4 linked regions of the Homo sapiens genome follow. The gene in region 4 interacts genetically with the main gene of each other region. Each region holds a gene or a part of one and is shown on either strand. Other genes may lie near its edges.

Evidence for each region. Genes that interact genetically often act in the same process or in processes that back each other up.
Region 1: changes in SEC24B (region 4) and TRAPPC9 together harm fitness less than expected from each alone (positive genetic interaction), as found in Homo sapiens cells (one large-scale study listed by BioGRID).
Region 2: changes in SEC24B (region 4) and TRAPPC10 together harm fitness less than expected from each alone (positive genetic interaction), as found in Homo sapiens cells (one large-scale study listed by BioGRID).
Region 3: changes in SEC24B (region 4) and RAB2A together harm fitness more than expected from each alone (negative genetic interaction), as found in Homo sapiens cells (one large-scale study listed by BioGRID).

The regions. Positions count from the first base shown.
Region 1 is NC_000008.11:140,436,968-140,440,985, reverse strand, and holds part of TRAPPC9 (trafficking protein particle complex subunit 9), read left to right. Parts: intron 1-1,788; coding exon 1,789-1,934; intron 1,935-4,018. UniProt on the Homo sapiens protein: Functions as an activator of NF-kappa-B through increased phosphorylation of the IKK complex. May function in neuronal cells differentiation. May play a role in vesicular transport from endoplasmic reticulum to Golgi.
Region 2 is NC_000021.9:44,078,068-44,082,085, forward strand, and holds part of TRAPPC10 (trafficking protein particle complex subunit 10), read left to right. Parts: intron 1-1,496; coding exon 1,497-1,637; intron 1,638-1,947; coding exon 1,948-2,060; intron 2,061-4,018. UniProt on the Homo sapiens protein: Specific subunit of the TRAPP (transport protein particle) II complex, a highly conserved vesicle tethering complex that functions in late Golgi trafficking as a membrane tether.
Region 3 is NC_000008.11:60,586,246-60,590,263, forward strand, and holds part of RAB2A (ras-related protein Rab-2A), read left to right. Parts: intron 1-4,018.
Region 4 is NC_000004.12:109,440,105-109,444,122, forward strand, and holds part of SEC24B (protein transport protein Sec24B), read left to right. Parts: intron 1-4,018. UniProt on the Homo sapiens protein: Component of the coat protein complex II (COPII) which promotes the formation of transport vesicles from the endoplasmic reticulum (ER).

The sequences.
Region 1 (4,018 bases), on a different chromosome or scaffold from region 4:
AAAAAAAAAAAAAGTAACAGTGTTCTAGAAACACATCAAGGACACTTAACCCAAAGTGCAGAGGTTGGAGTCAGGGAAGGCTTCCTTGAGAACCTGGTCATTGAGATGAGCCTAAAAGAGAGTGGAAGTTGTGAGGCGGATAGAGCCTGAGGTTGGGGGACTTCAGCGTTGCAGCAAGGTTGCCTGTGGAGTGCAAAGCCACAGTGGTAGGAGGGGAAGCCAGAGCCGTGGGAGGGGCTAGCTATGGACTGCATGCCTCTCCCTACGACTGAATTGAGCATCCTGTGAAAGGTTTGCAGTGGGGGAGGGACACAGACTGATTTGTGCTTTGGGAAGGACACTCTGGCTGTGTGTGTATAGAAGCAATGAAGGGGAAGGGGGTGCAGGGTGAGGAGTCAGAGACTAGGCGGAGGCTGCTGAGGTGACTGCTGTTGGGATGGGAAGAGCAGCTCAGATGCCTTTCTTTTCTTTTCTTTTTTTTTTGGGAGTCTCACCCTGTCCCCCAGGCTGGAGTGCAGTGGCATGATCTCGGCTCACTGCAACCTCCGCCTCCCGGGTTCAAGTGATTCTCCTGCCTCAGCCTCCTGAGTAGCTGGGACTACAGGCGCGTGCCACCACGCCCGGCTAATTTTTTGTATTTTTAGTAGAGATGGGGTTTCACCGTGTTAGCCAGGATGGTCTCGATCTCCTGACCTTGTGATCCGCCCGCCTCGGTCTCCCAAAGTGCTGGGATTACAGGCGTGAGCCACTGCACCCTGCTAGATGCTGTATTTTCTTATGGGGAGGGTCTGTTAGCAGGGGCCATCCTGACACTGCCTTGTGGCCAGGAAGGAGACAAACGAAGGCTGGCGTTTCTTTTTCTTTCTGCGTCTGCCTTACGTTGTGATCTTTGTTTAAAACTTATTCAGAATGGAAATGCTAAATTCCAGAGTAACAAAGAGTTTGTTGAACTCGTTAGAGTTACACATGATAGGATTTAACATTGTATTGAGATGTGTCAATAACATTCATTTACTTAGAAACGTCACATCTTCTGGATTTCCAGAGGAGTTTTATTCTTGATAAGTTTGCTTTCTTGATGAGGGAAAGTTTAATCCAGCTGCAGTTTTTCTTTAAAAAAAAAATCATCTATCTTAAGAAATATAACATTTAAAGGTTAGATGTATTTAAAAATGATAAAAGGAATACTTTGGTACAGTTTCTTTGGTTTCTGAGTTGATTAGGGACTCAGAAGCCTTTGCATTATTTAGTGGTATATCCTTGCCAATATTTAAAGAGCTGTTAGTGAGCACCCCAGGCCCTGCTCTCTGGAAGCTTTCCTAAAGCTTGCCCTGAAATAGCGAGGATGAACGTCTTGTTTGCTAAAGCCAAATGGTTGGCTAATAAGACTCAGCATAGCTGTCTTTATAAAATAATAAGAGGTTTGATGTTAAGAAGTGGAAGATAATTGATTTTTTTAAAAAGCTGAAACATAAACTTCCTTATGCTAATGTTACAACTGGAAAATCTAAAAAGAAAAATCCAACTGTAACATTGCCTACGTGAAAGACATGGTAGAAGTCCTTACGTACCGATCACCTTTAAACAAATTGCTTGGCAGTACATTTTTGAAATTAAGACCACTCCAGCTCACATAACTGGCAATGATTATTGCTGACTTAAAATTATAGAGCCTACAGTTGCCTTCTTAGCATTTTTAGTAGTGAGAGAATTGAATAGTGCTTAGTCAGAGTGCTTTCTGGGTGGGAGTTGTATAGTAATAAAGATACATTTTCATGTATTTTCTAGACATTACAAGAAGCGGTGCCAAGGCCGCATGCGGAAGCACGTGGGGGACCTGTGCCTGCAGGCAGGGATGCTGCAGGACTCCCTGGTGCATTACCACATGTCGGTGGAGCTGCTGCGTTCTGTGAATGACTTTCTGTGGCTTGGAGGTAAGATGAGCTGATGAAGATGATCTGATATGTAATTGTTTCAACTGTTAATTAAAATGAGAGGCTGGGTGCGGTGGCTCACGCCTGTAATCCCAGCACTTTGGGAGGCTACGGCAGGCCAAATATGAGGTCAAGAGATTGAGACCATCCTGGCCAACATGGTGAAACCACGTCTCTACTAAAAATACAAAAATTAGCTGGGCGTGGTGGCACGCGCCTATAGTCCCAGCTACTCGGGAGGCGGAGGCAGCAGAATTTCTTGAACCAGGAGGCAGAAGTTGCAGTGAGCAGAGGTTGCACAACTGCACTCCAGCCTGGCAACAGAGCGAGACTCCATCTCAAAAAAAAATAAAATAAAATAAAAAAAGAAATGAGAGGAAACGGCAGAAGAAATTCCCCAAAAAGAAGGGATGAGGGAGGAAAAGCAGCCAGCCTGTGCTGGTTGCCACGAGCAGTGGCCTGGGATGCTTCCCTGCTGTATCTGCTGCCCTCCTCCCACCCTGCCATGCGTCCTCTGAAGGAGGCCCTGCCCACACTTTCCCTTTTCCTCTGTTCTTAGTATACCTTGCCCTCTGCTTTGGATGCCGTTCCCCATGATCTTCACCTCTTAGACTCCTCCCTCAAAACCTCCTCCATGTGTCACATGATGAATGGATAAACGAAATGTGGTATGGGCATACAGCGGAATATTATTCAGCCATGAAAAGGAGTGAAATTGTGATACCACTGCAGCACGGATGAACCTTGACAACTTTGTGCTAAGTGAGAGAAGGCAGGCATGAAAAAGGCCGCAGATTGTATGATTCTATATATATGAAGTGGCTAGAATAGGCAAATCTATAGAAGCAGAAAGTAGACAACTGGTTCTAGGGGCTGGGAGGAGGGGGAATGGGAAGTGACAGTTAACGGGCATAAGGTTTCTTTCTGGGGTGATGAAAATGTTCCAGAGTCAGTTAGTGGTGATGGTTGCACAGTTGTGAATATACTAAAAACTGCTGACTTGCACACTTTAAGTGGGTGAATTATATGGTATGTGAACTCTATGTCAATCTTAAAAATTAAAAGAAAGGGAAGAAGAAATCCTACTTCAAAGCACAGCCATCTCTGATCCCCCGCAGCAGTCGGCAGAGCGGGTGCCCTGCCTGAGATGTTGCTGACACTTCGTGGTGGAATCGGATGTCTGTGTGTGGTCTTCCCTTTGGGGACTGCGCCTCCTGGAGGTGGTCCTGGGAGGATGGACTGGCTGAGTCCATTGTGTGGGTAAGGACTAAAACAGGGTTCTTTCGTTGAGGTTGACAGTTTAGCAAGGACACCTGTCAGCCACTTATGATAATACAAGTCGGAATGAAGTAATGAGGTGAGTTCTGTAACAGAAGTTTAACGAGGTGCCGTAGAACATATTAAATATAACAAATTCTTTCGTTCTTGGGGACGGAGTCTCGCTCTGTTGCCCAGGCTGGAGTGCAGTGGCATGATCTTGGCTCACTGCAATCTCCGCCTCCTGGGTTCAAGCGATTCTCCTGCCTCAGCCTTCCGAGTAGCTGGGACTTACAGGCATGCACTACCACACCCGGCTAAATTTTCTATTTTTAGTAGAGACGGGGTTTTGCGATGTTGGCCGAGCTGCTCTTGAACTCGACCTCAGCTGATATGCCTGCCTTGGCCTCCCAGAGTGCTGGGATTACAGGCATAAGCCACTGTGCCCAGCCAAATATAAGAAATACTTCAAACGGCCAGGCATGGTGGCTCATGCCTGTAATCCCAACACTTCTACAAAAAATAAAAAATAAAAAAATCTTACTTCACCTCACTTCTACAAAACAAAATTAAAAAACATTAACTGGGTGGAGACCAGCCTGAGCAACATAGGGAGACCTCACTTCTACCAAAATAAAATAAAATAAAATAAAATAAAAAGACATTAGCTGGGCTTGGTGGTCTGTGCCTGTAGTCCCAGCTACTTGTGAGGGTGAGGCAGGAGGATCGCTTGGGCTCAGGAGGTCAAGGCTGCAGTGAGCCACGATCGCACCACTGCACTCCATCCTGAGCAAGAGTGAGACTTTGTCTCTTAAGAAAAAACCAAA
Region 2 (4,018 bases), on a different chromosome or scaffold from region 4:
TAATGGTGAGTAAATTGGCATATAGATTCTTACATATTTTGTTATATAGCATTTCTCTAATTTTATCAAGTATTAAGAGGACTGAAAAACCTCAAGGCCATTGATGTAAAGCTACTGCATGTGTCAGGTTCATGAAAGAGGGATGATCTAGGGATGACTGGAAGAAGGTGTGTACAAAGACTGCAGGGTTTCCATTCCAGCTCCAGCTTTGAAGTTTGATTCCAGAAAAACTCAAAATTTAGCGTATTTCTGGTGTGTTTCATAAAATCAGACTATCAAAGAGAAGAAACCCCAGTGGGTCATGTGGTTACCATTTCAGAGTACTCAAAGGAGATACAAGCTATAAGGAAAAAGATGCTTGTTTTCATTTTCTAAAAAAAAAAAAAAAAAAAGTGATTGAAATGAGATCTTGAAATCTGTACTCAAGTGATTTCATTAGGTGAAGCAAGAAATGAGAATTGATTTGAACTGATGTGAATTGGCTGGAAAGGGATTCTTAGATCAGCTAAGTGAACTTTCTGGTTTTCCGGATGTGGTTGGAGCAGCTTTGCCGATTACCCACTGGTTAACAGCAGAGTCACAGCTAGAATGTAGCTCTCTTGAACTTCCATGCTGTGTATCTGAAGAGGAAGGTGCTCCTTAAGGAAGCAGAGAGGCTTCTCGGGAAAGGGGAGGGGATCCTTGTTGCTCCTGAGGCTTTGACAAGCCCTTATTAATTTGCATTTTAAAGGCAGGCAAGGCCGCACACACCAGTAGTCCCAGCTACAGTGGAGGAGGCTGAGGCGGGAGGATCACTTGAGCTGAGGAGTTTGAGACTGCAGTGAGCTATGATCACACCACTGTATTCCAGCCTGAGTGACAGAGCAAGACCCCATCTTTAAAAAAAACAGTTGTGCTTTAAACTTTGCTTTGGGGGCCAAGTGTGGCTATTTTAATTCTCCGGCGTTCTCTGGAAGCTGGATCCTGTGGAGTGCTCTTTGCCTGAGTTTCCAAGTGGCTCTGTGCTCCCTTCCGCTTGCGCCCTGTAGACTGCTTCTGTGTTTCTGTGCCTTTAGTAGGTAGTGTAGACCCATACTTGGACTTCCTGGCTTCATTGCTGACTAGCAGTGTACTTGTGGACAAGCCCTTCCTTCACCTTCTCTTAGCCTTGGCCCTCTTGCCTGTCAGCTTGAGATCATGAATGATAGGCTCACTTTCTTATCCTGAGATTCAGCTATGAAAGTTCCTCGACATGTGTATAAAGCCAGACCAACGATGTGTTGTGCTCTTATCACCACACGCTCATTTCTCAGATCTTTGCCTGGGAGTCTAATTATGTCGTCCTGAGTAGGTACTCTTTCTCACGGAGTGGGGTGGGTGGAAAAGGGCTATCTAGAGATGTTGAGTCTGTCCTGGCATGGGGTCTGGAGGATGGAGGCCAAAGCGGGAGAGATGGGGTTTCAGTGTGTTGATTATCCCTAGCTGTAATGAAAGCTACTGTTTGTTGACTTTGCAAGGAGGAAAAAGGCTCCACAAAAGGCAGAAATCTATCTTCAAGGAGCACTGAAAAACTACCTGGCTGAGGGCTGGGCACTCCCCATCACACACACAAGGAAGCAGCTGGCCGAATGTCAAAAGCACCTTGGACAAATTGAAAAGTATCCTTTAATGTTTTCATGAAGCAGGAAAATTATTTTCTGTTTATACGGCAACATTGCCCACAATCAATGTTTCATTCACACCTATTATTAAGGAGAGAAAAGTCCTAACTTATACATATGTATTGTATAGAAAATGAATGAAATGTCTAGTCGATTTTTTATAATCTAATTTTGAGCCCTAGTAACTTAAAAAAAAAAAGCCCTTTGGCTTTTGAAGCCTCTGTGAAGGCCGTAGGAGACTTTGCATCCACTTCCCCCCGCACTCCTAAGTATGAGCCTCTCCACGCTCCTTACCTCTCCGCTCCAGCTACCTGCAGACCAGCAGCCTCTTAGCCAGTGACCACCACCTCACTGAAGAGGAGCGCAAGCACTTCTGCCAGGAGATACTTGACTTTGCCAGCCAGCCGTCAGACAGCCCAGGTAAGACCAGTTCTTACAACTTGACTAGGAATATTTTCAAATATTACAGAAGTAAAAAAGAATACAAGATATACCAACCACTTACAGTAAACAGTTGCTAACATTTTGCTGTGTAGCTGACATGTATCTATGTCTTTCACCTGACTTTTTTTTTTATTTTTGCTTTAAGTCAAACTCTAGACCACATTAGATCTTCTAAAAATAAGGACAGTCTCTTAACCACACCCAAAGAATTAATAAGGTTCTAATATCATCTGCTAAGTAGGCCATATTCATATTTCCCTAATTGTCTTAAAGTATTTTATAAATCATTTTTAATGGAGTCCAACAGGATATCACATATTACATGTGGTTGTTAGATCTCAGTTCTCTTTTAATGTAAAAAAAGTTCTTCCCATCTCTTTTTCTTCTTCTTCTTTTTTTTTTTTGAGACAGAGTCTCGCTCTGTTGTCCAGGCTGTAGTGCAATGGTGCCATCTCAGCTCACCACAACCTCCGTCTCCCGGGTTCAAGCAATTCTCCTGCCTCAGCCTCCCAAGTAGCTGGGGTTACGTGCGCCCGCCACCATGCCCTGCTAATTTTTTGTATTTTTAGTAGAGACAGTGTTTTGCTCTGTTGGCCAGGCTGGTCTCAGACTCCTGACCTCAGGTGATCCACCCACCTCAGCCTCCCAAAGGGCTGGGATTACAGATGTGAGCCACCGCACCCAGTCTTTTTCTTCATTTTTTAAGATGGTGCTTTTTTTTTTTTTTAAAATGTAACAGCATTATTGTGATATTCACAAACCATGTAATTCACTCATTTGAAGTTTATAATTCAATGGCTTTTAGTCTGTTTCAGGAATATGTGCAACCATTACCACAGTCAATATTATTGTTCTTTTTTTTTTTCTTTTTTTTTTTTTTTTTTTTGACTATCTTGCTCTCTTGCCTGGGCTGGAGTGCAGTGGCACGATCCCAGCTCACTGTAGCCTCAACCTTCTGGAGTCAAGAGATCCTCTTACTTTGGCTTCCTGAGTGGCAGGGACCACAGGTGTGGGCCACCACACCCAGCTATTTTTTTTCTTCTCTGTCTCCCAGGTTGGAGTGCAGTGGCATGATTGTAGCCCACTGCAACCTCTGCTTTTTGGGCTCAATTGCTCCTCCCACCTCCACCTCCTGTGTAGCTTGGACTACAGGAGCATACCACCATGCCTGGCTAATTTTTGTATTTTTAGTAGAGATGGTTTTGCCATATTGCCCAGGCTGGTCTTTAACTCCTGAGCTCAAGGAATCTACACACCTCGGTCTCCCAAAGTGCTGGAATTACAGATGTGAGCCACCATGCCTGGCCACCACAGTCAATTTTAAAACATATTTATCACCCTAAAAAGAAACCCCATACTGTAATCCCCAAAGTGCTGGGATTACAGGCGTGAGCCACCACGCTGGGCCCCAGATGCTTGTAAGTGAATACACCCCAGCAGTCAATAACCACATCAACCTGACCCTGAAACTTCTAGGAACTTCTGCCTGCCCTGGGAGGCCGGGGCAGGCAGATCACTTGAGGTCAGGAGTTTGAGACCAGCCTGGGCAACATGGCGAAACCCTGTCTCTACAAAAAATTAGCCAGGTGTGGTGGCGGGCACCTGTAGTCCCAGCTACCCAGGAGGCTGAGGTAGGAGGATCGCTTGAGCCCAGGAGAACTGGGCTGTAGTGAGCCAAGATGGTGCCACTATACTATAGCCTGGGCGACAGAGCGAGACCCTGTCTCAAAGAAAGGGGGACAACAAAAGATCCATGTGGGTGGGTTTCTCGGGAGCATCATGACGTTAGTCTGTGGAGTCTTTAACGCGCCCAAGCTGACTGTTGGTAGAGCCGTGACCACATCTGCTGCTGCTTTGTATTTGAGACTATTTGAGTTGTGATGTTCCTGCCAACGTTCCTTGGTATCTCTATACGAATAAAATATTCCACAATC
Region 3 (4,018 bases), on a different chromosome or scaffold from region 4:
GTGTTCATGCCACTGTACTCCAGCCTGAGCAACAAAGCAAGACCTTGTCTCAAAAAAAAAAAGAAAATAGCCTAATTTTTTTGCCTTAAGAAACTAGAATAAGAGCAAATCAAAGTTAAGGAAAGCCTCCTGCCCGTTAAAAAAAAAAGAGAGAGAGAAAACCAATGAAACCAAAAGCTAATTCTTCAGAAGATAAAATAAAATAGATACTGATCAGGAAAAAGACAAACATTAGCAATATCAGGAAAGAAAGGTTGACATCACTATAGATAAAAAAAAGAGAGAGAATATTGTAAACAGACTAAATAAATGAAGAGATATAACCATGTTCATGGATTGTAAAACTAAATATAAGATGTCTTCTCAAATTTATCTAAAAATTCATTGAAGGCCAGGTACAATGGCTCACATCTGTAATCCCAGCACTTTGGGAGGCCAAGGCAGGAGCATCACATGAGGCAAGGAGTTCAAGACCAGCCTGAGAATGTAGCAAGACCCTATCTCTACAAAAAATAAAATAATAATTAAAAAAAACTAGCTAGGCATGCTGGCACACGCCTTTAGCTCTACTTACTCAGGAAGCAGAGGTGAGAGGATCACTTGAATCCAGGAGCTCAAGGTTGCAGTGAGCTATGATTGTGCCACCTGCACTCCAGCCTGGGCAAAAGAGCAAGACTCTGTCTCCAAGAAAAAAAAAAAAAAAAAAAGATTTATTGTAACCCTAATCAAACTATCAAACATTGGCAGACTTTTTTGGGAGGGTAGATATTGACAAGCTGACTTTAAAGTTTATGTGCAAAGGCCACGGAATAGCCAAATCAACTTTGACAAAGAGGCACAATATTGGAGAGAATTTACTATTCTACAAATTTTAAGATTTATTATACTATAGTCAATTTACTATTGTTTGGCATAAGCAGACATAGATCAGTAGAGCCGAATAAGAAGTTCCAGAAGTAGATTCATATATATATGATATATTAATTTTTTGACAGAGATGCTAATTTAGTTGAAGAAGGGGTAATCTTTTTCATCAAATGGTGCTGAAACAGTTAATAGTCATATGTAAAAATATGAACCTCAACTGTTACATTATACCATTTACAAAAATTAACTGGAAGTGGATCATAGACCTAAGTGTGAGAGCTAAAACTACTTAAAATTTCTAAAAGAAAACAAATTGTAGTGACCCTGTTTTGGCAAACATTTCTTAAATGGGACAGAGAAAAGCATGAACTTATAGTTCAGAAAAAAAATCAATAAATTGTTCTTTAACTGAATTTAAAACTTTTGTTCTTCAAAAGACGGTTACACTATTATACAACATCGTGACATGGTTAATGATGATATAGTGCATTCTGGAAAAATGCTGAAAGAGTGGATGTTAAGTGTTCTCACCACAAAAAACGATAACTGTGAGATAATGCAAATTAGCTAGATTAACCATTCCACAGTGTATATATACTTTAAAACAATATGTTGTACATGATAAATATATGCAATTTTACCTATCAATTTAAATAAATAAATTTGAAGAAAAACGGTTACAAAAATGAAAAGACAAGCTACAGACTAGCAGAAAATATTTGTGAAAAATGTATCTGACAAAGGATTTATATCTAGAATATATGAAGAATGCTTATAATTCATTAATAAGAAGACATCCACTTTTTAAAAATGATCTAAAGATTTGAACCAGCAATTACTACAGAAGATATACTACTGATGGGAACGTAAAATGATACAATCACTTTGGAAAACAATTTGGTAGTTTCTTTAGAAATTAAAAGGCCGAGGCGGGAGGATTGCTTCAGCCTAGGAGTTTGAGACCAGCCTGGGCAATGTAGGGAGACTTCTTCTATACAAAAATAAGAAATTTTTTAAAAAAGTAGCTGAACATGGTGGTACATACTTGTAGTCCCAGCTACTCCAGAGGCTGAGGTGGTAGGATCACTTAAGCCTGAGAGGTCAAGGCTGCAGTGAGCCATGATCATGCCACTGTATTCCAGCCTAGGCCACAGAGCAAGACCCTGTCTCAAAAAAAAGAAATAAAGCACACATCTATATTTCCTAGCCACTTTACTCCCAGATGTTTACCCAACATAAATATGTCTTCATGTGTCCACAGAATTATGTACAAATATTCATACCAGCTTTATTTCTAATAGCCCCAAACTGGAAACAACCCAAATATCAATTAACAGATGAATCGAAAAATAGTGATACAGCATTACAACAGACTACAACTCAGCTATAAAGAGGAATGAACTATTGATACATGCAGCAAAATGGATGATTCTCAAAATAATTACAGAGTGAAAAAACTCAGACCAAAAATACCATGTGATTACATTTATATAAAAATCCTAGTAAATGTGTACTAATCTGTAGTGGCAGAAAGCAGATCATCAGCTGCCTAGGGTGCAGGGGCAAGAAGGGATGGATTACAATGGAGTATGAGGAAACTTTTGGGAGACTGATGGCTTCACGGGCTTACATATCTTAAAACTCAACAAATTTTGCATTTAAGTACAACTTCTTTTATGTCTGTTACACCTCAAAAAAGCTATAATGTAAAACATCGTTATACTGTATAGATTTTAGAGTGTTGTTTTAATAGAAATTGAGATTTGCTATTAAGAGAAAATATTACCTAAGTGATATTTACATTATAAAAAGCTAAACATTGTTTACTTCTTTGTGTAGAGAAGAAACTATTATCATATTCTCTGAAGGCCTTTCTTGGGTATTCTTTTCCACATTTAAATCATCTCACTAAACCTTTTTAAGGTTATAAAGCTATTGGAGGGAAGTTTTAGTCTTTCTATGATGGAAATAGTTATTCTGTCATTCAAGGTATGAAATAATAAGAGGAGAATACTTGGAAAATAAAGAGAATTTTTATCCTTTTATTTTACCAATTTTTTCCTTGTGGCTGAAACATGATGAGTGACAGCTTACTGGTGGCTTAAATTTGGTCACCGACCACTAGGAGCTGATAGTTCAAATGTGAGAAGAAATAAACAAAGCATAGTATGTAAACGAGATGTTTCTGATGATCGTAGGTGGGTGACCTTTAAAATCAGGAGTATAACGAACAAGAAAGAACAGAGAGAAATAAATGAGATGATTATTTTTAGATGAATTGAACTGTGGATAGACATCAAAACAGGGAATAAGCAATTTTTGAATTAGACGCATTAAGCAGTAGGGAGCCAGTGAAGGGCAGTGACCTAGTCAGAGCAACAGATGACACAAATTTTTCTTACTATGGCATTTTATTAATAAATTGGTTATATAAGAAATAGGAAGCAGAGATTTAAAAAATGAAAGTTTTTTAATAGTGTAAGGGTTGTAATGCAAACCCTAAACAAAAAGGGGCCATAAATTAAAAGAAAGATACTTAAGTAACCTAAGCAACTTAAGTGGGATTCAGAGGGAGTGAACTAAGACAACAATATGATGTAATGCCTGGAAAACTGAGGTATTTTTAAAACTTTGCACTAAGTATATCGTCAAGTACTATGGCTTTTGAGTTTTTTGATTTGACCTATAGTAAGAAATGTATTTTACATCATGACCTAGTAAATAAATTGTGTATACACCTACACATATAACAAAATATTCGTAAATTATACCTTTATACGTAAGTTCCATGAAACAGTAGATGGAACTTATGTATATAGGTGATAGACTCTGATATTTTATATTGTTTCTTTTTTTTTTCCCTTCCCAAGATGGAGTCTCACTCTGTCGCCCAGGCTGGAGTGCAGTGGCGCGATCTCTGCTCACTGCAACCTCCGCCTCCCAGGTTCAAGCAATTCTCCCGCCTCAGTCTCCTGAGTAGCTGGGATTACAGGCACCCACCATCATACCCAGCTAATTTTTGTATTTTTGTAGAGACGGGGTTTCACCATGTTGGCCAGGCTGGTCTTGAACTCCTAACCTGAGGTGATCCACCCGCCTTGCCTCCCAAAGTGCCGTAATTACAGGTGTGAGCCACCGCACCCGGCCTATT
Region 4 (4,018 bases):
AGCGAGACTTCGTCGCAAAAAAAAAAAAAAGATCTTAAAGTATTCACTCCATATGTAAACAAGGGTCTTATATCTGGGTTTAATTTTTATTTTTTATTGCTATATATATTGCTTTAGTTGTTTGCAGTGTCTTTTCACTCCCTTCCTCTCCCCCCAAGTTTCTGGGATTGTAGCAGTAATTAATTTTGTAAACCATATTCATTGCCACCACTAGTATTTCATGTTACTTTATCTTTCCAATTCATCTGTAATTCCTGAAGTATTTTATGCTAAAGGTATTAGAATAATTTTCTTTCCTAGAAATGAGGCATCTTCATTGTCAGCATTGTTAGAAAAGATCATGTTATATATATTCAGCCCTGGAGAAGCTACTATTTTCAATAGGCTGAGCATACTCAGAATTGTCCAGAAGGAGTGGACTAGTGAAAAGGTTGTAGGCTTTGATATAGCCCAAATTTTTGTGGAGAAACTTACTTAACATGCTTCAGAGTATAATAATACCTTTCTTACAGAGTTGTTTATAGAACTACATTTAATAAGGTACTATTTTTAAAGTACTTAGCCCTAGAAGGAGCTTAGCAATTAGAGTCCCTCCCTTCCATTTTCTTCAGAACACCGTTTTATAAATTCTTCAGGTGGCAGAAACCATATGAGTTTTCTTCATCATATGCCCAGTAGTAGCAGCTTGTAATAGGCACTCAGTTAAGTGAACTTGGTTTCCTATTCGTTATTGCTTTTGAAGACTGGCCACTGACAGGAGTCTGTGTGCCAGCTCCCTCTCCCCTTTTTTGTATTTAAGGCTCAATCACTATTTTAGTCTTCTCTTTATTTTCTTCTGCTTTCCAGTCCTCCATCCCTTATGTCCGCAAATGCATTCTTGGAAGGTTTCTGGTAATAGGCCATCTATTTTAGCTAGTTTGCTTATGGAAAGGTAAGTTTAATGGGTTTTAAGTTTTCTAAAATTGTGTGCCAGAAGTCATTTGTAACAGGAACTGAGGAAAAGCAGGATGAAGTAGCGAGAGGGAGTGGTAAAATCATGTCTTGCCTAGCCAGTGGCCAAGTCTTAACTTGTTTTCCTTAGGATTTCTGATTAATGGATATTGTGAAATGAGGTATAAGCCTGGCTTTGGAACCAGCAATGCCTGGCTTCTTTGCTCCTTACCAACGATTTGAATTCGTATGAATTAGTGGGCTTTCATGGCCCTGTTTATTTGTATATAAAAGATGATAGTGATACTTCACAGAATTGTTTGAGAAGCATATCAGATTATATGTAGAAAAGCAAGGTATCTGGCATGTAGTAGATTCTGAACCAATATTGATTTTCTTTTCTTTCTGTATTTTGAGACAGGGCCTCACTTTGTCACCCAGGCTGGAGTGCAGTGATATGATCACAGCTCACTGCAGTCTTGACCTCCCCGGGTTAAGGTGATTCTCCCACTTCAGCCTCCTGAGTAGCTAGGACTACAGGGGCATGCCACTATGCCCAGCTAATTTTTGTATTTTTTGTAGAGATGGGGTTTCACCATGTTGCCCAGGCTCAAGTGATTCTCCTACCTTGGCCTCCCAGAGTGCTGGGATTACAGCGTGAGCCACCATGTGTGGCCTTGGTTGTCTTTTGGCCCCTCACTCATAGCACTCATTGTCGTGGTATCCAAGAAGGATAATTGATGTTGTAGCAGGAATAATCTATACTTAATGCAGTGAGATTTAATCCAGTTGTTTACATAGCCTGTGTCTGTAGGCTCTGTCCGCCAGCGGTGACTGGAACAGTTACCTTCATCCTCAGGTATATTTGCAGTTTATGGAATGTAGGAGAGAAAGAATACAAGAAAACATTTCTCTCAGAGCTTGGGAAGAAGCTCTATAACTGTTATCCTTGCATTATGATAACCTAGGATATCCAGATGTAATCTGAGACTCCTCATTTTTGAAATCACCAAGGTTTGTAATTGCCTATTGCCTTAGGGGTGTGTGGGTGTGCAAGCATGCACATTTTTTATGCCCATTAAAAATCTGTATTTTGGCATTGTTAGTGATACCTTATTGGCAGGGAGAGTATATTAAAATATTCAGTAATCAGTACTGTGTATACTGACCACTAAATGGATACCATCCTTCATACCAGAGCAGGATCCTATAAGCTTTCAGCTGTGCCAGGCATTACTCCTTCAGCTGCGGATTATGAGAAGGTTTGGGCTAGCATGGTGGGGTAAAGCAGGGGAATAGGACCATGGCTATGACTCATTACCAACTGATTCAGAGCTATTTTAACATTTTAACAAAGATAATTGTTAAAATGAATACCTGGGTGCATACTGACTGAATATTGGCCTATTTCTTTGTAATTGAGTGATGAATGAATTCAGTGATTACATTCTTCGATCTGATTCTACCTCAAAGTTAGTATGAATTTATCTTAGTAGGATAAAGGAACTTGTACTTTGCTGACCTTGATGTTTGTGTTCAGATAATGGAAACTGAAATCTGACTTTGATCTGACTGAAAAAAAAAGTTGGAATTCAATTCAGGAAAATATTAATGAAACAACTATTTTTAATATTAAAATGTGTCTCAGGGAGGGGGAATGATCATGCTATTATGGAAATCTCAGGAGTAGTCAAATTAGAGATGTGGTTTTTGTTTTCTCTCTTCATTTTTTTCTTTTTAAACAATAATTGTAGTATGGTGGAAATCATGACTGTTACAATCTTATTCAGGTAACTTGCTTTATTTTTGTGTTTTCCTGTATGTTTATATTACTCATTTATCAATTTTGCACATTTTTACTAGGTTTGGTAACCTTTTTATGTCAAATGTTTTTTTCCCTATAAAATGGCTGTATTGTAATATTAGAATAATCCAATGTTGATGCTTTATTTTCCTTGAAGTTTCTCCAACTTTATATTTATGGTAATATCTCTTAAGTGAGCTCTCAGTACCAGTTAGTCCTGTGGTATTTCCCTGCTCCATTCCCAGTGTCACATGCTCCCCTTTTCCCTCAAATTCTCAGTATCCTGTCTCTCTGCCTCCCTTTCCAATGGTGACCTTACTTATTTTACTAAGAAATTGAAAGCAATCTGACAATCTGAAGATAAAGTATTAATCTTCTGCCACCAAATCTGTCAGTCTTCCTGCATATTATTCTTGTGTTATCTGAGACAAATTCAGATTATTTGGGTACAGAATTCTGTTCCCTCTCTTTTAAGAACTTTGTCCCTCCGATTATCTCATTTACCATCAATTTTGATCTTAAACACCTGAACCTTATTTTATGCAATGCATATGTAATCCTAACAGTTATATATAACTTTTATTTTAGAGACGAGATCTCACTGTGTTGCCTGGGATGGTCTCAAACTCCTAGGCTCAAGTGACCCTCCAACCTCTGCCTCCCAGAGTGCTGGGATTACAGGCATGAACCACCATGCCTGGCCTATAAATTTAATTTACAATTCCTAGCAAATATTTATGTAGCTCCTCTTTACATAACATTTTGTGCTAGATACTCTGGGCATACAAATGTGAATGTTCTCTGCACTCCAGGAGTTCTGTACCCCTCAGTAAAAGAGGAGAGGACTGTCAGCACTGAACATGTGTTTCCTTCATAAGGCCTGTGAGAAGGGTGCCCAGAGTTTTGAAGAGGAAACAATTCTTTTTGGTTAAAGTAATAGGGAATCTTAAGGGAGGAAGTTAGAACTTCAGCTATATCTAAAATGATGGACACATTTTGAATTGTCAGGTAAAAATGCATGAATCAAAGGTAAGGAATTTAAAAAACGTACTCTGAGCAGTGCAGGGGTACAAGGGAGAGAGAGTAATGAAAGAATGGTTTGGGCCCGGTGTGGTGGCTCATGCCTGTAATCCCAGCACTTTGGGAGGCTGAGGTGGGTGGATCACCTGAGGTCAGGAGTTCGAGACCAGCCTGGCCAACGTGGTAAAAACCCATCTCTACTAAAAATACAAAACTAGCTGGGTGTAGTGGCGAGTGCATGTAATCCCAGCTATTTGGGAGGCT